7 linked regions of the Homo sapiens genome follow. The protein of the gene in region 4 interacts with the protein of the main gene of each other region in a biochemical or structural test. Each region holds a gene or a part of one and is shown on either strand. Other genes may lie near its edges. The genes, in order: ANP32B, CDK8, PPM1A, SMAD2, FHL1, BPTF and NFIA.

Region 1 (3,500 bases), on a different chromosome or scaffold from region 4:
TCAAAGAGGAACATGTGCCACCTTTTGAACTGCAGCTTAACTGCAGCCTCTCCTAAAAGTTCATGACAAATGTCCTTAGCAGCAGGCAGGATCAACTCTTCAATAGTAAAGGGCTTCTTACTTTAGCAATGCAGTTAGTTAAGGGCTTCTTAGCTTTAGCAATGCAGTTAGCCACTAAGAATGAGATGTTCTCAGTGCAGTCACATTTGATGAAGTGGGAGCTTTCAATAATTGCCTCTGTTTTTCACGTTCATGTTTATTTCTTTTGAAAAACTCCAAAGGCTTGTCTTTTAAACGCAGGGTGCTTGGTCTCCAAGTGGTGAAGCAGTTTTTTTTTTGTTTGTTTGTTTTTTGAGATGGAGTCTTGCTCTATCGCCCAGGCTAAAGCACAGCGGCACAATCTCGGCTCACTGCAACCTCCGCCTCCCAGGTTCAAGCAATTCTCATGCCTCAGCCTCCCGAGAAGCTGGGACTAAAGGTGTGCACCACCATGCCTGGTTAATTTTTGTATTTTTGCAGAGCCAGGGTTTCCCCATGTTGGCCAGGCTGGTCTTGAACTCCTGACCTCAGGTGATCTACCTCGGCCTCTGTAAGTGCTGGGATTACAGGCATGAGCCACTGTGCCCAGCCAGTGAAGTGGTTTTGAAGGTTTCATGGCTTTGTTGGATAGCTTGTTGCCACATATTATACAAAGTGGGCTTGGAGAATGTGAATCATCTGTTGCAATGAACCTGTAATTTAAGTAGCACTCTTGGTATTTTCTTTTCAATGAAGCTTTCTTTTCATTGGCAGTCTTGTCTTCTGCTGTCTCATTATTGGGTCTTTCCCCCTTCTCAAAGAAGCTCTCCAGCGACGTTTTTTACTCATGTTGGATAGTTAGCTTGTGGGCCTAACAAAACTGTGACTGAGACAAATACGCAGTGCGGGAAAGAGGTGTGGATGGAAGTGGTAAATAAAAAAATGGGCAGGCCATGCACTGACTAAAAAAAGCATCAGATTCTGACTTAAAGCCTGTCACCAGATACAGCTGTACAACTGAAGTACACCAACTCACTTGCCACTATAAAGCCTGCCACCAGATGCAGCTTGTCACTTGCCACTCACAGATAGGGGTTGATGAGTCTGCAAGCAATTGATTTATTATCATCTCTGTAAAGTCAAACCTCTTTGCTAATGTTAATCTGTATTTGCAGCCACTCCCCAGTGCTAGCATCACCACCTCAGCTCTAGCATCACCACCTCAGCTCCACCTCGGATCATCAGGCATTAGATTCTTCTAAGGAGCACACAACCTAGCCCCCTCACATGTGCAGTTCACAATAGGATTCTCGTTCCTATGAGAATCTAATACCACCATTGATCTGACAGGAGGTGGAGCCCAGACAGTAATGTGAGCAATGGGGAGTGGCTGTAAATACAGATGAGGCTTCCTCACTGCTCATGCGGCCTGGTTTCTAACAGGTCATGGAGTAGTACCAGTCTGTGGCCTGTGGGTTGAAGACCCCTGAAGTAGGAAGACTTAAGAACAGCAGAGTGGCAAGCCTGTAAGAGCAAGCGGTTTACAGTTTAAACGCACAGCATCCTAACTTAGCTTGTAGACTTCAGGAAATGCTTCCCGGGCCAGGTTCAGTGTCTCATCCCTGTAATCCCACCACTTGGGGAGGCTGAGGTGGGAGGATCCCTTGAGGCCAGGTGCTTATGAAATAGGCCTTAGCTATAAATTTAATGGAATGCCTACATTCAAAAAATACACGCGTGCGCACGCACACAAACACACACTATTTTCCTCAATAGTAAGAACATCTAGTAGCTTTTTTTTTTGAGACACCCTGTCTGTCTTCTGAGACGGAGTGCAGTGGGGAACAATCATGGCTCACTGTAGCCTCAAACTCCTAGGTTCAAGTGATCCTCCCACCTCGGCCTCCAGTCTTCTGAGTAGCTAAGACTCCAGGTGTGCGCCACCACACCTGGCTAATTTTTTTTTTTTCTATTTTCTGTAGAAACAAGGTATTGCCATGTTGCCCAGGCTAGTCTCAAACTCCTGGGCTCAAGCAATGCCCCCTGCCTCGGCCACCCAAAGTGCTGGGATTACGGTTGTGTGCCACTGCGCCCGGCCAACATCCAATAGCTTTTATCAGAGGCTTTGAAAGGCAGACATCAGGTTCACCAGATGCTGAGCCTACTCACCTTCGTCCTCCTCCTCTTCATCCACACCATCCACCTCGGCATCTGAGTCAGGTGCTTCCTGGTCCTCTCGGTCATAGCCATCCAAGTAGGTAAGCTGGGGCAGGAGCTTGAAGACACTCTCTCGGTAGTCATTCAGGTTGGTAACCTCACAGTTAAAGAGGTCCAGGCTTTTCAGACATTCTAACTTTTTCTGAAGAAAAGGATCAAAAACCACAACTCCTAAACCAAAGGAATATAAGTAACAAATCCATCTCTTGAAGAGGTAAAATTCTAGGCTCTATATTCAATTTCCACTACCCACTCAGCCTCATATATAGAAAAATACATCAAGTCTTTTGCAACCTTTATATTAGGTTACTAGACTTTAGTCCCTCTCTTCCTTTATCTACTCTCCCAGAGAACTATGTGTTTTTCTGGCAGCATAGTAGTCTAAAGAAATATAAATTGAAAATAATTTTTATTAAATCCAGGTATTTTCACAGTATGAGACAATCAAACAGTTTAATAAATTTAGCTGAAACAAATGTTAACATTTGAGTAATCAAATGGCCATTAAGAACTTCCTGGGTATCAAGCGGTCTTTAATGTTCTAGGGTGGCAGTATAGGGAAAAATTCAGAGATTTATAACACAATCTTAGGGTGCTTACAATTTTAGTTAGGGCACAGACATGAAACACTAGAGGATGAAATATAATAAAATATAAAGTGTGGCAATGCAGCTACTTTCAGGGAAGACAGGAGTCAATATGGGCTGAGGAAAAAGCAGAGGGGCGCAGAGTTGAAACTTCGGAAATACGGAGAAACATTGCACTCTTCTTTTTTAGTATTTGGGGAAAAGACTGACATGTTACCAGACTTTTATGATGTAAAGTTCTTCTGATTTTATTTACCATACCTTGAAATTTTGTTGCAATACCTCATTTCTTTGGAACCATCAGTTTCATCTATCTAAAAACAGTTAAGCTATAAAAAGTTGGCCCAAGTCAAGTTTTCTGAGTAGTCAAAGTGCACTGGAAAATGTCTATGTATTTACTCAGATCTTCATTTGTTATTATATCAGTGTACTAGTATTTCAATCCCAGGTCTATTAAGTTTTGATTAAGGGTAAATTAAGAGATTGAGAGGGCAGAGGTACTACACTATAGGCAAGTCAGGAGACAGCAACAGGAAGTGACAGCAGACCCTTGTAGATAGAAGAGGGAGCAGCCTATGAAAGGCAAATCCAATGTGAAGTAGCACATAGCCTGGTGCCTTTCAGAATAGGGGCAATAACTACATATATCTGGATAGCTTCATAAACACAACCTTTAAT
Region 2 (3,500 bases), on a different chromosome or scaffold from region 4:
TTGCTCCTCCTCTTATATGGGAACCCAAGGAAATCCTTTATGACAAGCAAAAATGAGCTTTGCTGATTAAAGTGTCATTTAGGGGCTTTCCAGTTAAGAGGCATTCCTGTTCATCTCTTGCTTTATGAAATGCTGATCACATTAGTTTCAGTAGTGATCCAGCTATTCAGTGACAGGTTGGTTATGCGTGCTGTAGCTCCTTACTGTCTGCAGTTACAGTTTCATGTTCCAAAATTGCAAATATTCCCAAATGTGTTCCCTATACCATCTTTTGTTTTGTTAATAAATGTAGTAGGAAGGGTAAAACAAAAATTACCTTTGAATGGTGACACATACTTCAGCTAGAATCTATATTTGGTCTGTATTAATAGAAGAGTAATGCTGGGATAAAAGAAGAAAGCTGAATCATACTCGATGATTATTGATCATTTGTATACAGCTCAAGCCCTCAAGTAGCCTGCTGTAATATTACTAGTTACAAAGAAAAGATTCGTTTTGTCACAGTTACATGAAAGGTGCTTATATTTGCAAATATGGAGACAAAGTTCATCTTAAAAGATTAAAATGAGAATCTCCTAAATGAAGCATTTGGAATATTGATTAGTATACCAGAAATGGTTTTTCTTTTTCTTATGATCAGCGTTTTTGCCGGTTGTCAAATCCCTTACCCAAAACGAGAATTTTTAACGGAAGAAGAACCTGATGACAAAGGAGACAAAGTAAGTATTAAAGTACTGTTAGCAGCTTCTTGTTTCGTGAATGCCTCCATAACATTTTCCATTGTGGGTATATTTTGTTCTCCCTCTGAGCTGAACTTTTTCTGTTTAACCAATTGAGAAGAACCAGCAGCAGCAGCAGGGCAATAACCACACTAATGGAACTGGCCACCCAGGGAATCAAGACAGCAGTCACACACAGGGACCCCCGTTGAAGAAAGTGAGAGTTGTTCCTCCTACCACTACCTCAGGTGGACTTATCATGACCTCAGACTATCAGGTATTCCAAGTTTATTTTGTATTGACTGCATGTCAGTGTTTACATATGGGTTTATGATCGTGGGAAAATGTGATTTAATTGAGAAATACTGACGTCTGTATACCCAGGGAAATACATTAACATGAAATGTTACTGGCATGGAAAAGTACTGACAGTGGTATGGTAGCAAGGGTTTAGACTTTTGAACCAGACTTGGAATGATCAAATACAAATTATGCCATTTATTAACTGTGTGACCTTGGACAAGTAGGATAATATCTCCTGGCGTTTTTTCATCTGTAAAATGAAACTAGTAAAACCTAACTTGCAGCTGTTGTCAGATTAGACATGAAGTGGCTTGACACCTAGCTTATGGTAGGAGCTTGATAGCTATTGTTTTGGAACAATGTTTCACAGTGATTAAGAACATAGGCTTTCAGATCCCAGTCTGGCCACTTACTTCTCTGTATCCTTGAGTAAGTGATTCAGATGTTCTCAGTTTCCATTTGTAGACTGGATAATGATCAATGTGAAGCTGTAGTAAGGATTAAATGAGATAACTCTGGGAGGTTAAGTGTTGCAGCCATTTCAGGAAACTGAGGCTTGTAGAGGTTAAATAACTTTCACATGGATCCCCAGCAAGCTGTAGATGCAGGACTCATATTTGATCTGACCACAAAGGCTGTTATGTTGCCTGCTTAGGGATCCTATCATGGCATTGTCAGTTACGTTGTGGAAAGACCCTCTTTGAAAATTGTATACCACCTCCTTTTCTCTTCTGCTTATTCTAACCATATTCCCAACTACACAAGGGTTCAGTGTGGGAAGGATACTGAAAATCTGACCAATTAGAATTATTTACACACAAAAAAAAAGAGAGAGAGAAAGAGATGTTATTAAACTGATAAGGTCCCGAGTGCTCGTTACTGTACTTTCAGAATTAGGTATTAACTCTTTCTTTTGGTTAGGGGAGAAGTCCAGCCCATCACACCATGGAAATCACTGTTGTGTGAGTAGTAATTCTCTTCCAGTTAGCTAAACAAGGACACCAAGGGCAGACAGCTGTGGGAGTTGTTGGTTCCAGTATCTTTTTCTTCCTTTCCGGATGGGAAGAGTGCATCTCTCTTGGCCCACAAATGTGTTTGCACACTAAGGTGATGGCATCCTTAGAAGGAAGCAGAGCAGTGCTCTGACCTTCGCTTCTGGAACCGAGAAAATGATGCCATGCTGCTTTGTTGGTGTGATTGTTGTTGGTTTTTTGTGGATGAATTTTAAAATAGTATTTGTGACTATCATTTCATGTGTCCACTCTTTTTAAAAATGTTACCTTTTCTAGGATTGGCAGAATTTGGAATTATATGTCTTATTAAATATGCTTTGAAAGACAGAAGTAATAAGTTCTGGTTAATCTTTTATAGTGTTTGTCTTGGGAGCAAATAGTATGAGAGAGAGGTGTGAGAATGGGAATAATAATCTAACATATCAAAATTAGAGAACCCCAAACCATCACATTCTTTCTCTTTGTGCCATTTTAGAATTGAGAATACCGTCCTTCTTACTGTGGTTATATTTTTACTTTTGTATATAAACTTGTAGCAGAAAATAAGATTCAGTAGCTTAAAGGGGCCAGGCACTGTGGCTCATGCCCGTAATCCCAGTGGTTTAGAAGGCTGAGGGGAAGGATCACTTGAGGCCTGGAGTTTGAAATCAACCTGGGCAACATAGCAAGACTCTGTTCCTTCAAAAAAAATTTTTAAAAATTAGCTGAGCATGGAGGTGCATGCCTATAATCCTAGCAATGATTATACCATTACACTCCAGCCTGGATGATAGAGTGACACCCTGTCTCAAAAGAAAAAAAAAATAGTTTAAAGGGCATAAAAATGTATTAATGCCAAAGAAATGGATTCTGTGATACCTTCTCCTATCATACTCACTTTTACTCTTCAGTCATGTGTGTGGGGGTGAGTTTTCTACTGAAGAAAGCATGTAAATAAGCTTTGAATTTTTTATGTATACATCATTAAGTTTCTGGGTAAACATCTCAAGCAAATTTACCAAGTAGATACAAAACAGCATAAAAAGGGGTTACTCCTGTAGAAAAAAATGTATTTGCACAGCATAGTAATAAGCCTAGGCTTAATATTATTTACTAGCAATATTTCTGACCTTCCTCAAGAGAAGAGGATGTTAAAATATTTGGGGTTTTTGTCTTTAATTATAAAGTTAGTACATAGCACAAAACCTATACATCCTTTCTTCCTTGAAACATAATGACACTTCAGTCACATATTGGGATTGAGCTTCCCCTAGAAGCACCTGAATCACACTTTTCCCTCATCTCCTTTCCAGCGTTCCAATCCACATGCTGCCTATCCCAACCCTGGACCAAGCACATCACAGCCGCAGAGCAGCATGGGATACTCAGCTACCTCCCAGCAGCCTCCACAGTACTCACATCAGACACATCGGTACTGAGCTGCATCGGAATCTTGTCCATGCACTGTTGCGAATGCTGCAGGGCT
Region 3 (3,500 bases), on a different chromosome or scaffold from region 4:
CAGACTTCAGTTGATATAATCTAACATTTTTCAAAATAGAGTCACTCACTGAGTTCATGAATTGTGACATGCAATTTTTTTGTGTATGTAGGGAGATAGATGCTGAGGAAAGAGAGAAAAAAACCTTTTCAAGTGAAAGTTCTATTTAATAGCTTAAAAAATGTGTAACCACCTACCTCCTATACTTGAATAGCCACACCTCAAATCGCATGGCCCAAAATGAACTTCTCAACTACTGCCACTTCTTAGTTCCACATCTGAGGAAACAGATCTATCCTTAGTCATAAGCTCATAGAATCCTCTATTTCCCTTATCGCAGCATTTATCTGGTGAATTATCTCTCACTTTAGATTTTAAGATCCAGGAGGAAAGAGATTATGTCTTTTTTGTTCATATTTAACACATGACACTTGACGAATACATGAGACAGATGAATAACAGCCATTATACCTTGGCTTCTCCCTTGTCAACACTGATTATCTTCTATGCAGGAAAAAGTATTTTCAGAGAAGTTGGCCGGCCAACAAACTGTATCCTACCATTTTCCATCTATAGAATACATGGTTGTCTTTTATCCCTACAAAAATATCATAGTGGATTTCTAAAAAGAAAATATTGGACCCTAAAAGAAATCTACGGCTTAATCAAAACTTGATTTTCAGATTACTGTTCATCAATGACTTTAAAAAGTTTATCAACATCATTAGATACACACTCCCATTATTGAAAAATGGCACATAAGGAAGGGAACAAAAGAGAAAAAACATAGTTATGACTAAAAGCCCACACATTTTCTTTCCCTGAGCTATTTATTTATTAATCTGCTCATTCATTCAACATTCATGGATGGATGAACTTTTTCTAAAGTTTTCTCTACACAATAAGCCAAGTATAAAGTAATTCAGACACAAACGAATTTCTGGGAGCTGGGAAATCCATTGTCAATGCATTCAATGTAGTCTAGCCAAAAATATCTCTAACTTAATCTTGGAGTTTTACTACATAAAACAAGTAATACTATTTACACTTATAGAGCTACTTATTTTACTGACTGTAGCAAACCAGAAAAGATCACACTAGATGGCTGACTAGTTGAAACACCTGCTTACTGTATCAAGAAGCATTTACGCAGAAAGAGAAAATGAAGATGACAGATATGGACTAACAAAGGGTAAGCTGTGGGTTGGTCACAAAACAAAAACTGCCACTTCTAAGATTGGCCCCTTGGCAACCAAAACAGTCTTACAGGCTGTCAGAAAGGATAATACCCTACTGCTTTACAAAAAGTGAAAATTTTATTTCCTATCTACTTAACATTCTGAGGTATGATGGCATACTGCAAAGATGTTTTTCTAAAGCCTGGTAAGTTATGAGATTCTGTTTGGAAAAACAAAAACAAAAAAATATATAGCCATCCCTTATCTTTTATCATTCACATTTTCATTTCTGAATTTTGGTAATAAAGGTAAGCACACTTCATCTTTATACACACAGTACCAAATTATGATGTGATCCTACTAGTCATGATAAAGAAAAAGGTAGTACTAAGAATCCAAGACATTCAAAGTTGGTAATGAATTATATTCTTATTCTTTAAAACAGTACAATAGACAATTCTTGAATAACATATTCTTTAAAATAATTAAGCCACCTAAAGTATAACTAAAAAAAGAATGTTTACTTACATCCCTCCCTGAGGTGGTCATATTATAGATGAATACAAAACACCAGCCTAAATTTAAAGTGATTATACATGACCCATGCTTTCTCATAGTCTGCTGTATTTCCAGCTCACATTCAATTTTCTGTCATGTGTTCATCAGAAAATGAACAGGGAGACTATAAAAATTTAACAGTCATATATTGATAATCTCTTTAAATGAATGAAACAAGACCTGTTTTTAAGGAATTTATTTTCAATAAACATTGAAGTTACCATTTATAGTATAATCTCTATTGTAAACTCAGCTAGCTTGTGTTTAAGACTATCTTCTCAGACTCACTGAGAATTTCATTTGAATAAAGGATCTGTGAAATAATTTATATCAGTGGGTTGCAAAGTAGTAAACATGAATAAAATTTTAAGCCATAAGAAAAAAGTGTGTATGGCTTGTGGAACTAATTGTATTATGGCCATATCTTATGCTTTTTTAATATTAAAAAATGTAATAGCTCTTCTTGGGGAAAATTTCTAAAGGGAGCTAACATATGATAATATACTTTTCAAACTTAGTATACACTGCCACCTCAAATCCCAACTCAATCACAAGATTCACTCTCTGGATACAATGGAACAACAGTCATACCCTTCATGTACAAAGATTTTGACCCATCACAATGGCCAAGAGACTTACTTTCCGCAGTAGCAATGAAACCGCATGGATCAACAAATTATTTCTGCAAAGTCCAAGAACATGTATTAGGCTTCTGTTAATAGCTCTGAAACTCTTGGCAAATAACTGCTCTGTTTCAAATTTCCTCATCTGTTAAGATATAGGTAGTAACAGTATCTAGCTCATAGGGCTGCTATGAAGATTTAATGAGATAATAATTGAAAATCTATTGTAATAGTCCCTGGCACATAAGAGCTCAATAATGTTAGTTATCATTGTTAGTTGCTAACGTCAAGGCTAGGAAAACATAAGAGGAACACAAAGTATCAAGAGGTCTCATTAGCATTGTTCTCTAACAAATGGATCTAAGCCGGCACTGACTGACTATATGAAATTATCCATTTAAAAAGCCAATAAATTTTACTATGTATTTTCTTTTTTCTTCTTCTTTTTTTTTAGACGATGTCTTGCTCTGTTGCCAGGCTAGAATGCAGTGATGCAATCTTGGCTCACTGCAACCTGTGCCTCCCGGGTTCAAGCAATTCCCCTGCTCAGCCTCCTGGGTAGCTGGGACTACAGGCGGGTGGCCACCATGCCCGTGCCACCACGCCTGGCTAATTTTTTGTATTTTAGTAGAGACAAAGTTTCACCATGTTGGCCAGGATGGTCTCCATCTCCTGACCTTGTGATTCACCTGCCTCAGCCTCCCAAAGTGCTGGGATTACAGGCATAAGCCACCACACCTGGCTGGTATTTTCTAAACACTGAAAATAGTCTAGCATTTTGATAAGCTTGAAAGTCTAGCTTAGAGGTTTATTTGAACACAGAGTATGCATATTATTAGATACTTGTTGGGTTCAAATTAAATCAGCTGATAGTTATCTCTCTTCTTTAACACATCATCTAATTCCTGTGATTCCACAATTCCTCTCTGGTTAAAAGGACACAAAGTTCATGATAATATTTGCAAATGTAAAATACTCTGAAAAGAGATATGTGATTATAAATGTCCTGTTAACCCTCAAAGCCAAAATGTAGGAAGTTAAAATGAAGCTTGTAGGTCCAGGATCAGTCAACCTAGTCTTCTACATCAATATAAGAACACTGCCACACTTCAGATTTGTATAATCTTCACACTTAAATATCCAGGTTCAGAAAAAATAACAT
Region 4 (3,500 bases):
CAATTAAGTCACAAAAACAAAAAACTATTTTAGTTAAAGCACCTACAGCGACACTGGGTATCTTAATAAGATTATCCAAATTTATACATCAAGCAAGATTTGAGAACTTCCACTTGGAACCAAGTAATAGATCTTCTAGTCACTATCATTTTGCAGTATCAAAATCACACTTTGATAACCAGCATTACTTCTCACAGGAGGTAATGGTTAATTAGAAAAAAAACAGAAGCAAACTACTGTTAAAAGAAGTTACTTTAAGGTGATGAGAATGATGTTCAATTATGAATGGTTCTCACACTTTTTCACTTCATCGTTAAGGAAATACTGAGGACCCCAAAGAGCTTTTGTTTATGTGAATATTATGGAAAATGACCATATTAGATATAAAAACTGAGATTTAAAAAATTCATTTAAAAATCAAATCCATTACATATTAACAATGTTTATAAAAAACAACTGTATTTCCAAAGCAAAAAAAAAAAAAATAGAGTGGCAACATTTCACCATTTTTGTCTATGAAAAACAACTATATTTCCAAAGCAAAAAAAAAAAAAAAAAAAAATAGAGTGGCAACATTTCAACATTCATGTCTAGTGTAACAGAATTGGAGTCTCATTATCAAATCTACATTTCATCTCTTGCAAAATCATATGCATGTAGGCTCTGGAATACTCCACTGTACAGTCATGAGAGTATGAGAGTAGAAATGGCAAACAGCATCTCAGTACTACTATGAAAATAGCTTTGACCTCACAAACTAGCTGAAAGGGTTTCTGGGACTACCAGAAGTCCCCAGACCACATTTTGAGATGTCCCTGAATTATATTTTGAACTATATTAAATGCAGTTCTTGTTTTAGATATCTCATTTCAGATGAACAGCAAGCAGATTTCATTTAATATATAAACTCACCAAAGGGGGAAAAAACCTGGGAGCTATATAAAGAAACTGAAAAAAAACAAAAACAAAACAAAACAAAAAAACATGATTTATAAAAAAGTATTAACCCCCAAATCTGAACATGGCAATTTTATGACTGGTAGAGACTCAGCAAATTAAACTTATCTTAACACATATTTATTGAAGAACTTTCCAGTACCAAGGGTGCCAAATAAAAGTTGAAGAGTTTGCAGCTGAAGCATCACCAGGATCTATTAGAAGCAGTGAAGCCTGTGCACTTAAATGTGTCGGCACTTAAACCACCAGAGAGAAAGCTGGTTTTACTGCACACAAGCTCTTGATGTGGCACACCATGCAATGCCTACATTATGAGTATACAGCATTTATTTTTCACAACAAGGAAAATAAAACATACCTATATGCCTTCTTGTCATTTCTACCGTGGCATTTCGGTTAACATTGGAGAGTAAACCTAAGCAGAACCTCTCTGAATTTGATGGGTCTGTAAAGCCATCTACAGTGAGTGAGGGCTGTGATGCATGGAAGGTTTCTCCAACCCTCTGATTTAATTCATAATATGCTATCGAACACCAAAATGCAGGTTCTGAGTAAGTAACTGGCTGTAAATCTGAAAAAGAAAAAAATAAAAAAATAATAAAAGGAAGAAATGCGTGAACAATTCAAGCCAAAAATAGATTTAATATAATCATCTTTACATGCTCTATGCCAGCCTGCACTGGCAAAAGCTCAGGAAGTAGACATAGTATCTGTATCGGTTTCCACAGATGATACCAGATTTTCAGTATTTTTCACACAAAACTCCAGTTTCATAGATCATACCAGATTTTTTCAAATTTCTCCCATGTCATTAAATCACTTTATGTTGGATTCTTTGTTTTACCAGTAGTTTTAGTCTAGCTCCTGTTCAAATACAAAACAATCATAGGCAAAGTCAGTCAACTTGCCATACTTGGTGCATTTCTAAAGCACATAAAAAAGCTAAAGTGGGGTAAGATAAAGCCAGAGCAAAGATTAATGAGTCAAAAGCCACACAAAGAAAAACAGTAATAATAAAAGGATACAAAATATGACATATTTTTGACATTTGTCTATTTTAACATCAAACTCTTGGTGAGATACCCTAGCTACAAAAAGAGAAAACCCACTCATACATAAGAACCAGAAAGCAGTAACACACAAAGATCATGCAAGTAGAAACAGACCATAGAGTCAAAAGACTACTTATTTCACTGGAAAACTATATATTTAGCTTCTGCAGTTTGACTAAAACATATCATAAGGAATACTGCAAAAGAAAAAAACCTCACAATTTTGTAGAATAAATTCCAAACATGTAACAACCGAAGAGAAATTGTGAAATAGGGTAAAATGAGGGCAAAAATAATAATAGTAATACAGAAATGTATGTATATATATATATATATATATAGTCATCCCTTGGCATTTACAGGGGATTGGTTCTAGGACCGGCTCCCCCTAACTAAAAACCCTTAGATGTTCAAGTCCCTGACATAAAAGGGTGTAGTATTTCCATGTAACTTAAATTCACGTCATCCTGTATACTTTAAATAATCTCTAGATTACTTATAATACCTAATAATATAAATGCTATACAAATATTTGTTATACTGTATTTTAAAATTTGGGCCCAGCACGATGGCTCACGCCTGTAATCCCAGCACTTTAGGAGGTCAAGGTGGGTGATTCGTTTGAGGCCAGGAGTTTGAGACCAGCCTGGGCAACATAGTGAAACCCCATCTCTACTAAAAATACAAAAATTAGCTGGGTGTGGTGGCATGCACCTGTAGTCCCAGCTACTCAGGAGGCTGAGGCAGAGAATTGCTTGAACCCAGGAGGCAGAGGTTGCAGTGAGCCGAGATTGCGCCACTGCACTCTAGCCTGGGCGACAGAGCAAGACTCTGTCTCAAAAAATAAATAAAAATAAATACAATTTGTATTAGTTTTTACTGTCGTATTGTTATTTTCATTTTTTCCCGATTATTTTCAATCTGCAGTTGGTTGAATCTGCAGATGCTGAACTCATGGTTATGAAGGGACCATACACATACACATTTGTACATATATGTGCACACTCTCATATATATATTATATATAGTATATATATATTATTATATATATGTATAATATATATTATATATTATATATTATATATATTATGTATAATATATATTATATATTATATATATTATGTATAATATATATTATGTATGTTATATACATATTATGTATAATATATGTTATATATATTATACATAATATGTATAATATATATTATATATATTATATAATATATATTATATATTATGTATAATATATATAATATATTATATATATTATGTATAATATATATTATATATTATACATAATATATATTATATATTATATATTATGTATAATATATGTTATATATATAATATATATTATGTATAATATATGTTATATATATAATATATATTATGTATAATATATATTATATATTATATATATATTATATATATTATGTATAATATATATTATATATTATATATATATTATATATATTATGTATAATATATATT
Region 5 (2,404 bases), on a different chromosome or scaffold from region 4:
GGGCCCAAATGGGCAGCTTCCTTAGTGAGCCACATCCACAAGAAGGAGCGAGGGTGTCATTCAGCTGGCAGGTGGAGGCAGCCGCAGTTGAGATGGTCACGTTCAACCTGGACCCCAGGCTCCAGAGGGCACAAGGGGAAAGGCACACCGAGGAAGCACCCAACAAACAGGGACCAAGATGGCTTCTCAGTGCCATGCTTCATCAGGGATTCCCTCCCTAATCCCCTGGCCAAATCAAACCAATTCATCGTTTTCTTTCTTTTTCAGGGATGTGAAAATCTGGGAAATACTATTTTAGGTCAGAGTGGTTTCTGTTTGTTTTTAATTATTTATTTATCAATCAAGTGTGGTTTTTACAGGTTTGTTTATAATTCCTATGTTCTGTGCGCCTGCACTAAAGTGAGTATATCCTGGAAGGAAAATAAGTCATTTAGGTTTCTGGATTAGGAGTATCACCTTATAGCGATTCCACCAGGCAGAATGAAAAGACAGGAGGCAGGTTATTCATATGCTGCTTTATTTCTGTAAGGATACACTGAAACGTTAGATGATAATAGCTAATGACAGAATGTAGAAATGAGGCATCAGCTTCTCTAACCACTCCTACAAGAATGTTAGTATGTATTGTCATTACATGTTTACTTTTGATATTGTCTCATTATACTATGTCATATAATAATGTAGAATACAGTAAGTAGGTGATCCTGCATTTCAGGTAAGCGGTAGGTGGAAATCCAGATTTCCTCTTGAGGAAAAGTCCTAGGAATCACAACAGAAGGGACTTTGCAGTCCTCATTAACACATGGACAAAGAGCAGACAACTACTACGTTACAAGGGATTCAACTAGTCACTGTTGTGAAATGTCATATCCATGTTGATGACAGCCCTGGCGCCTGCTCAACTCCCCCTCTAGAGTTTTGCGGTTACTTCCGTAGGATGAATTTCAGCACTGCAGGAACATCTGAGGGGGCTAAAATATTTTCATGCAAGTTTCCAAACCCATAAACTATTTTGCTATCAATTAAAACAAAAATATTAATTAAAAACAATAAAAAGGACAGCAGGGTTAGTTTTGTTAAGCTTCCAGAAGTATTCGTTGTGACGATGTTCCTCTGAAACAGGCTCGTTTTCTCAGGTCTTTCTACACTTCCCAAATCACCTGCATGTTCCATGCTTTAAAGTAGGAACGCTCAGAAAACATGCCACACGGGGAAACCAAACGTTAGTACGGGGAAAGGTCAGTTTAGAATTACAGCTAAGTTCAAATGTTAATTTTCTGGAAGTTCGTGTTAGTTATTTGAAAGCACAAAAGAACAGAAGGAAGGGCAGAGTTCTGATGAGGAAGTTAAACCATGCATGTCAGTAGGGTTCTTTTCCTGCTCACAGAAGAGGGTGAGCAGTGAGTTGGAGCAGCCGCTGCAACTCTTGCATGTCGTGTGTCTACACGGTGGGTCCCAGCTGAGGCATGAGAGGCATCTCAGTGGGGGTTTTATCTCCTATGCTTCTTGCTTACATCACTAAGTGGCTAAATGATTAGCACTTTTCTGCTCTATGAGAAACATGCAGAAGAGTCAATCTACCTAAGTTTTCATTTTTAAATTGCAGCCGGACAGAAATTCACTTTGCTGCAGGGTTGCTTTTTGCTAAATGCTAATATGATCACTGTGTGCCCTTATTTGAGTAATACTGTAAAATGGGAGAAAAGACGGAAGGAGAACTTTAAAGAAGGGAAGGACCACTCTTCCCCTATTGATGGTATAGGGCAGAAAGTAAGGACACAAAGAACGAGATTCAAATGCCATTTTACAGGACAGGAGCCCCTGTCAGTTTACAGCTTTTTGGCACAGTCGGGACAATACACTTGCTCCTGGTGGAAAACAAAGCGCTTGTTGGCCAGATTCACGGAGCATTTTTTGCAGTGGAAGCAGTAGTCGTGCCAGGATTGTCCTTCATAGGCCACCACACTGGAGCCTTTACCAAACCCTGGGGGGAAAAAAAAAGAAAAGAAAAGAAAACAAGAGAAACAGCTGAATGAATACAGGTGAGGAAACCACGATTCAGAGAGATAAAATGACGACCTGCCCCACTCACAGACCGACAAGCACGCAAGAGCCAGGTCTGCCTGGCTCCCAGACCCCCTCCTCCACTCCATCGTGCACAGTCCCCCACGCCGCCATTGTCCCCCATGCCGCCGCAACCCTGCTGTGGCTCTCAAGGACCTGAGAAGATGCTGAAGCCCGGCCAAGGGCTTCCCTGATGTAAAGACCCCACGTTCCCATGCCACCACGCTATTGCCCTGTGACGCGCACCGACCTCCCAGCATAACCAGTTTCTTTGATTTAGGTCAGGGCCATGACATCAAAGTGGCCACCAGGAGGCAAACTTGGGCTGTTCGTGGGGTGT
Region 6 (3,500 bases), on a different chromosome or scaffold from region 4:
AAGTAAGAATATTTATGTTGCTTAGTAGGAAAAACATCAACAATCCAGAGTTCCAGTTCAAGCTCCCCCAATGGTCAGCCAGTTATCTGTCCACAAGCAACACTGTTCCTCCAGATCCAAGTTTCCCAATCTATAAAATAAAGGTATTGAATAACTAAAGTCCCCACAAAATTCTGATTTTAAATAATCTTATATTCATATTTTACAATTTCAAAAGCATCTTCATAGATACTGCCTCATTTGATTCTCACAATGGACTTGTGACTTTATGGGGTAGGCAGAGAAAATATTCTTCTGATTCCCAACTAAGAAACTCAGGTTAGAAAGGTCAAGTACCCTGGCCAACTTAAAGGTGAGATAAAAGAAGGAACCTAGATCTCCTGAATTTTGTCTTTCAATACGTGCCAAATTACCTATGGGGTGTGTGTGTGCTAAACTGTAAAAAGCTTAGGGTTTTAGATATGTAATGCAAACACCAAGTAAGGAGGATCACTAAGGTCTGAGCAGTTACCAAAAAGGGGTCCAGAAATTTAAAATTCTCTAGGCGCTCTCTCTTCTGTCCAGAACTGTAATTCAACTAGAAACCCTGAATACCAGGAACATGCTGGAGAACTGGAAAGCAAAAGTAAAAACCATCCCCTAAACTCCCAATGACCAAAACTGATGGCGCAAAGTCCATGTACTAAGTAAGCTCCATATACATGTGAATCCCTCAAAACTTATTTACTCTTGCTTTTCTAAAATACATTTTTTATGCACAAAATGCACAAAACACCAAGTATAATTTAAAAATTATAAAGTAAACATCTATAAAACCGCCACTGTGGTCACCATTGCCAGTGTCCTAGAAGTCCCCATATGACTCACCCGGATTTCAATTCCCTCCCTCTCCCCTAGAGGTAAGCACTATCCTCACTTTGATGATAACACTGTATTTCATTACTACTTCGGTATGTATCTTAGGTATATATAAGGCCACTGAGGTTCACAAACTCAGGAGCAATATTCACAAAGAATACAATGGGAATAGTGCCCCCTCCAGGCAGGCAATGCAGCAGCCCTGTATCCCTACACAAAATAGCTTAGTTTTGCCTATTTCTGAATCTTATACAAATGAAATTATAACATGTATTTTTTTTGGCAGCTACTTGCTTCTTTAGCTTACCATTATATATTTGTGAGAATCATCTGCATAGTTCTGTGTGGCTGAAGTCTATTCATTTTTATTGCTGTAGGAATATACTACAATTTACTTAGCTAACTGATTTTGATAGACACCTGAGTTGTTCTTAGTTTTTGATTCTTATGAACAATGCTGCTACCAATATTTATGCCATGTATTCTGGTGCTCACATGGCCAACAACTTCTCTAGGGATATACCTAGAAGGTATACTGGGACCTTGGGCATACACAGCTTTGACTTTACCAGACCATGTCCAGGAAGTTTCCAAAATGGCTGAACCGACTGATAGGCCCACCAGCTGTGCATGAGAATTCTTTCTGCTCTATGTCTTTGCTAACTCTTGGTTTTGTTGGACATTTAAATTTGTACCAATCTCTTAAGCATATGGTTTTAATATGTACTTCTCTCATTATTAATAAAGTTCAGCAGTTTTTTGGAATTTGGGACATTTAGATTTCTTCTTTCCTCATAATGTTGGTTTGTCCTTTTTTTTTTGTTTTTCTTTTTTTTGAGACGGAGTCTGTTGCCTAGGTTGGAGTGCAGTGGTATATCTTGGCTCGCTGCAACCTCTGCTTCTTGGGTTCAAGCAATTCTCCTGCCTCAGCCTCCCAAGCAGCTGGGATTACAGGCGTACACCACCACGCCTGACTAATTTTTGTATTTTTAGTAGAAACGGGGTTTCCCCATGTTGGCCAGGCTGGTCTGAAACTCCTGACCTCAAGTGATCCACCTGGCTTGGCCTCCCAAAACCTTGGCCCCCCAAAGTGCTGGGATTACAGGTGTGAGCCACCGCACCTTGCCTGTTTGTCTTTTTTCCTATTGATCTATCTGGATTTTTTTCTTTCTTGATTTGTAGTAATTCTTTATATATTCTGGATATGTAATAGTCCTTGGTTGGTTCTTTTCTCATTTTCTTCACTCTCTCTGTAGTGAGTTTGATGAACAGAGGTTCTTACTCTTATTTTTAAAGTAGTTGAATTTATAAATCTTTTCATTTATGGTTAGCATTTTCTATCTGTTTAGGAAAGCTATGAAGATATTCTTCTATCTTCTAAAGGTATTATAGTTTTACCTTTCACAGTTAGGACTTTCATCCTCCTGGAATTGAGTTTATGTAGAGTGAGGTAATAATGGTCCAATTTCACAGTTTCCCATGTATATTCAATTGTCCTGGCACCATTTACTGAAAAGTCATCTCTTCCTCAATGATCTGCAATGTCACCTTTGTCATATAACAAGTGTCCACATACATGGGGTTCATGTTCTGCACTCTCTACTGTTCTGTTGGTCTATCTGCCTCTCCTTATGTCTGTACCTCACTATATTAATTAGTGAAGTATTATATACTAAGTTTTTTGGTTTTTTTTAGATGAAGTCTTGCTTTGTCACCCAGGCTGGAATGCAGTGGTGCAATCTCAGCTCACTACAACCTCCGCCTCCCAGGTTCAAGCAATTCTCCTTCCTCAGCCTCCTGAGTAGCTGTGATTACAAGCGCATGCCACCACGCCCAGCTAATTTGTTTGTACTTTTAGCAGAGATGGAATTTCACCATGTTGGTCAGGCTGGTCTCAGACTCCTGACCTCAAGCAATCCACCCGCCCTGGCCTCCCAAAGTGCTGGGATTACAGGCGCAAGCCACCATGCCCAGCCTATACTAAGTTTTGATATCAAGTTATCATATATAGGGCAAATAATCCTGTTCTTCAAAGGTACAGATATTCTTAATACTTTGTACCTCCATATAAACTTTCAGTATCAGCTTGTGAAGTTTCACTAAAAACAAAACCTCTTGGGATTTTGATGGGAGCTGCATTCAATTTATTAATCAATATTAGAAGACTTGCTAACAATATCGAGTCTTGCAAGGAAGCAGCTTAATGTACTCAAATTTTATTTGTCTCATGGAGATTAGCCAACTAATAAAATTTTGGTGTTTAAAAGGGTTATCTGTCTCACTGTTTTAGCTCACTGTCTAAAGATTACTCTAGTAGTTGGGGTTTATTATATCCTGTCTAAGAGGTATTTCTGCTTGACTCCAGGAAGCAACCATTTCTTCAAATCAGCACATTTAAAAACGTATCAAAATAAGTTCATGTTTTTAAACTTACCGCAAGAATAAATAAGATCACCTCTAAAGTTAAAATAAAGCTTATGTTACTTACGTGGCCCTGTGTTAACTGAGTAAGTTGAGCCATGGTGAGCTTCACTTGTCCTTGTTGGGGGCGAGGGGGTTGTGAGGCTGAAGACTGTATATTTGAAGTGGACGTTGCTGAAGTTAAGCTTTTCTGCCCAGGTGTTGAGGAAACCGTGTTAGGG
Region 7 (3,500 bases), on a different chromosome or scaffold from region 4:
CACACTACTTTTTTTTTTTAACTAATCATTTATGCTATTCCTGGACATTTCTTGCAAGCTAATGATACTCTTTAGTTTTGATATTCTGGAATATTTTAAATCATGACTTGAGAAAGATACATTAGAAAAAATCAATACTTTAATTGTGCATATGAGTAAAGTTATACAAAATATTGTGGACTTTTACTGGCAGGTTCTTAACCTTTGGGGAGTAATACATTGTAAATACTTTTGATGCAAAATTGGGGACTTAAGTTATTCTTAATGACTAATTGACATAGTTGTTCTTGTTTAAGGATTTTTATGATGAGATATATGGGCATTTGGTTGGCAGGTAAACAGAATCCTGTTGGACACGAATGCATGCATGCAGTTTGCAGTTTTTTGAAAAGCATATTGGGAGTATCTACAGACACTTAAAATGCCATATTAGAATGTTTATTTTAAATGCTTATTATCATTAATCAAACTTTTAAATAAGATAACATTTTAACATAGATATGAATCGTTTGGAGCTAAGTTATACTTTGCATTATAAAATGGGGATGAAACTTTAAAATGAAGTCCTCCTTTTGGTGAAAGCTCACTTGGTAGTTTAAGGTAGACTCCAGGAGTTTTTTGCATAATACAACAGAGTCTTGGTCCCTAGCATGTCTTGTATATATAAGAAAATCAGTCAATGTGAAGTTCTGTTTCAAACCTAAAATTTATGTATTTTAGATCATTTCAAGGATGAGCTCAGAATTTAGTAACGTTTAGATGCTTTGTGGTTTGGCGTATACCTTTGCAGATAAACTGTGACTTGCCCCCCATGCCTGTCACCTAAAGTATGAGAATAAGAAATATTCTCAAACATCAGAAATTTTAAAAATGTTAATGGTTTATGGCAAGAATAACAATTCCTGTATTTTTTTCTATTCTCTCTCTACTTAAAGAATGCACACGTGTTACAAAAGCTGACTACTTCTCTTTTGGATTCTTTTATTGAAAAAGAGCAGTTTTGAAAGCTAAACTTGAAACATAGAACCTGAAATTTGTGCAGAGAGGAAAAAAGTCAGTTATTGAAGTAATTTATTATGTATTAATATATACTTACTTTTAAAAGCTCAGTCATATAGAGTGTTTAAATGATTGATTATAATTTGCTAAATTTTTAAACAACACGACTATTAAATATTTTACCTTATCAGTTCACATTTGAACATTTAAAAATTTAGTAATTGTGTTAATAATAATATTCTGGACATTACTGCTACCTGTGCCTTGAAAGTATATATTTAGTTAGATATAACAAACTGAAAAAGAATGCATTTTATAATATTTGTCTGTCCTACACCATTTAGCAAAAAAGCCATCGAATCTTTCTTTGGTTTCTAATCCTCATTTATTTGAAGGTAATCTATGTTTTGGAGAGGGGGTTATGTGGCAGAGAGAAGTTATGTAACAGTGTGGATTAGTTAATCAAAAGTTAGACGTACTCCGAAAGCTTTGTGGAGGTTACTGCTTAATTTTTTAAAAAATATATTTATATTTCCTAAGAAAATGTCATGTATAAGGATCAAACATTTTAAGCAAAACAGAAAGAAACATTTAAATATTTGAAACTCAATTTTTTTTTCAATTTTAAGAGGCATCTATGAGGGTTTTCCCGGCATCTTGTAAATATTGAAAATACCAGGTTCTGATTCCCTATGAGAAAAATCCTGAAATAGTATTTGCAAAAATTAAATAATCTATTTTTTAGGTATGATTATTACTGAAAGCACTTCACAATCATATTAGTAAATTAAATGTATTCATGTATGCTTTTCTTTGTTTTTTTTTCCTCTTTCTTCCCCCTTTTTGTTTCATTCCCATAGTATTAGCAATTATGTCTTGGGCATAGATCTTTTATTTTAGCCTAATAAATATCAAATTCAATCCTTCTTTTGTATATGAACCTCCCAAATTTGTCCTAGTTTTTGACTAAAAAAATTATATGTAGTTATAATATTTAAAAGGGGAATTTAGACACTAGCAAAATGAGTAAGAAACATATCAGAATCTACATGCAATATTTTTAGGGGGAAAGCCTTTGTTTTCATTGATTGTAGAGATGATTTTTTGCTCCTAGACTTCCATAAACATTGACTGGCATCTAAATGTTTAGGATTTGCCAATCTGGCGGCTGGGCCCTGGCTGTACTACAAGTGGTGAGGTCAAGGCTGGGACAAAATTAGATATGCCTTCCTTGAAATAGGGTTAAGATTATACATTGTTATAAGCATTTAGATAAACTTCACTTACTATCTAAAGGATGGGGAGCTAGGCCCGACAGTAGTAGCTGGTGTACCCTGGTGAACATATTAAAACAGTTTTTTAATTTTCAGCAGTTTTTTTATTTCCGATCATAAGAAATGATACTGATAGTTTTCTCTCCCACCTTCCCAGACTTCCCATAGGATCCTGTGTATGATTTTGGTAACAGAATGCTCTAATCAAATTTCAAGTGAAATGAGGAATTTCTTTCTTAAGGTGACCCGCTGAAGAAAAGTTGTTTTCTTTTGTTTTCATTCTACTTATATTTTTCTTTTTGTTCATTTTCCTAGGATGAATTTCATCCTTTCATCGAAGCACTTCTGCCCCACGTCCGAGCCTTTGCCTACACATGGTTCAACCTGCAGGCCCGAAAACGAAAATACTTCAAAAAACATGAAAAGCGTATGTCAAAAGAAGAAGAGAGAGCCGTGAAGGATGAATTGCTAAGTGAAAAACCAGAGGTCAAGCAGAAGTGGGCATCTCGACTTCTGGCAAAGTTGCGGAAAGATATCCGACCCGAATATCGAGAGGATTTTGTTCTTACAGTTACAGGGAAAAAACCTCCATGTTGTGTTCTTTCCAACCCAGACCAGAAAGGCAAGATGCGAAGAATTGACTGCCTCCGCCAGGCAGATAAAGTCTGGAGGTTGGACCTTGTTATGGTGATTTTGTTTAAAGGTATTCCGCTGGAAAGTACTGATGGCGAGCGCCTTGTAAAGTCCCCACAATGCTCTAATCCAGGGCTCTGTGTCCAACCCCATCACATAGGGGTTTCTGTTAAGGAACTCGATTTATATTTGGCATACTTTGTGCATGCAGCAGGTAAGTGCGATGGTGAGAATTCCTCCCACTTTCTTGTGTGTGTTTCTTTCCTGATGGCCTCCGCGTTATGCCGGATTCTTCCTGAGCTCCCCAAGTTGCAGGCCACGTACATGAAGCCAGTGTGGTTTCAAAGATTGAGAGAGGTGCCACCTTCATTCAGGTGAAAAAGCATAGCTTTGAGCGAATTCTCACTAAGTTCAGCTCTTTTGGTAAGTAGTGTTTTCAGAGGCGTTGGTAATCAGATATGTGATATGTTTAAATCACATTTTTTGATGAGGGGATGAGAGAAGCCTCGTGAAAACCCTTTTAATAAAGAGTATATTTTAACTGACAAATGATCTAGTTTAAAAGCATTTATTTTGGTATTGAGGCAATATTTT

What was found.
Region 1: the proteins of SMAD2 (region 4) and ANP32B form a complex in vitro, tested with the Homo sapiens proteins (one large-scale study listed by BioGRID).
Region 2: of the proteins of SMAD2 (region 4) and CDK8, one has a biochemical effect on the other in vitro, tested with the Homo sapiens proteins (one study listed by BioGRID).
Region 3: the proteins of SMAD2 (region 4) and PPM1A form a complex in vitro, tested with the Homo sapiens proteins (one study listed by IntAct).
Region 5: the proteins of SMAD2 (region 4) and FHL1 form a complex in vitro, tested with the Homo sapiens proteins (one study listed by BioGRID).
Region 6: the proteins of SMAD2 (region 4) and BPTF form a complex in vitro, tested with the Homo sapiens proteins (one study listed by BioGRID).
Region 7: the proteins of SMAD2 (region 4) and NFIA form a complex in vitro, tested with the Homo sapiens proteins (one study listed by BioGRID).

The regions. Positions count from the first base shown.
Region 1 is NC_000009.12:98,003,841-98,007,340, reverse strand, and holds part of ANP32B (acidic leucine-rich nuclear phosphoprotein 32 family member B), read right to left. Parts: intron 2,378-3,500; coding exon 2,188-2,377; intron 1-2,187. UniProt on the Homo sapiens protein: Multifunctional protein that is involved in the regulation of many processes including cell proliferation, apoptosis, cell cycle progression or transcription.
Region 2 is NC_000013.11:26,400,629-26,404,128, forward strand, and holds part of CDK8 (cyclin-dependent kinase 8), read left to right. Parts: intron 1-640; coding exon 641-719; intron 720-837; coding exon 838-996; intron 997-3,327; coding exon 3,328-3,453; 3' UTR 3,454-3,500.
Region 3 is NC_000014.9:60,255,721-60,259,220, reverse strand, and holds part of PPM1A (protein phosphatase 1A), read right to left. Parts: intron 2,398-3,500; exon of another isoform or gene 2,355-2,397; intron 258-2,354; exon of another isoform or gene 1-257. UniProt on the Homo sapiens protein: Enzyme with a broad specificity. Negatively regulates TGF-beta signaling through dephosphorylating SMAD2 and SMAD3, resulting in their dissociation from SMAD4, nuclear export of the SMADs and termination of the TGF-beta-mediated signaling.
Region 4 is NC_000018.10:47,847,160-47,850,659, forward strand, and holds part of SMAD2 (mothers against decapentaplegic homolog 2), read right to left. Parts: intron 1,529-3,500; coding exon 1,316-1,528; intron 1-1,315. UniProt on the Homo sapiens protein: Receptor-regulated SMAD (R-SMAD) that is an intracellular signal transducer and transcriptional modulator activated by TGF-beta (transforming growth factor) and activin type 1 receptor kinases.
Region 5 is NC_000023.11:136,209,451-136,211,854, reverse strand, and holds the end of FHL1 (four and a half LIM domains protein 1), read right to left. Parts: intron 1,985-2,404; coding exon 1,830-1,984; 3' UTR 501-1,829; downstream 1-500.
Region 6 is NC_000017.11:67,940,503-67,944,002, reverse strand, and holds part of BPTF (nucleosome-remodeling factor subunit BPTF), read right to left. Parts: coding exon 3,347-3,500; intron 1-3,346. UniProt on the Homo sapiens protein: Regulatory subunit of the ATP-dependent NURF-1 and NURF-5 ISWI chromatin remodeling complexes, which form ordered nucleosome arrays on chromatin and facilitate access to DNA during DNA-templated processes such as DNA replication, transcription, and repair.
Region 7 is NC_000001.11:61,085,561-61,089,060, forward strand, and holds part of NFIA (nuclear factor 1 A-type), read left to right. Parts: intron 1-2,588; coding exon 2,589-3,120; intron 3,121-3,500.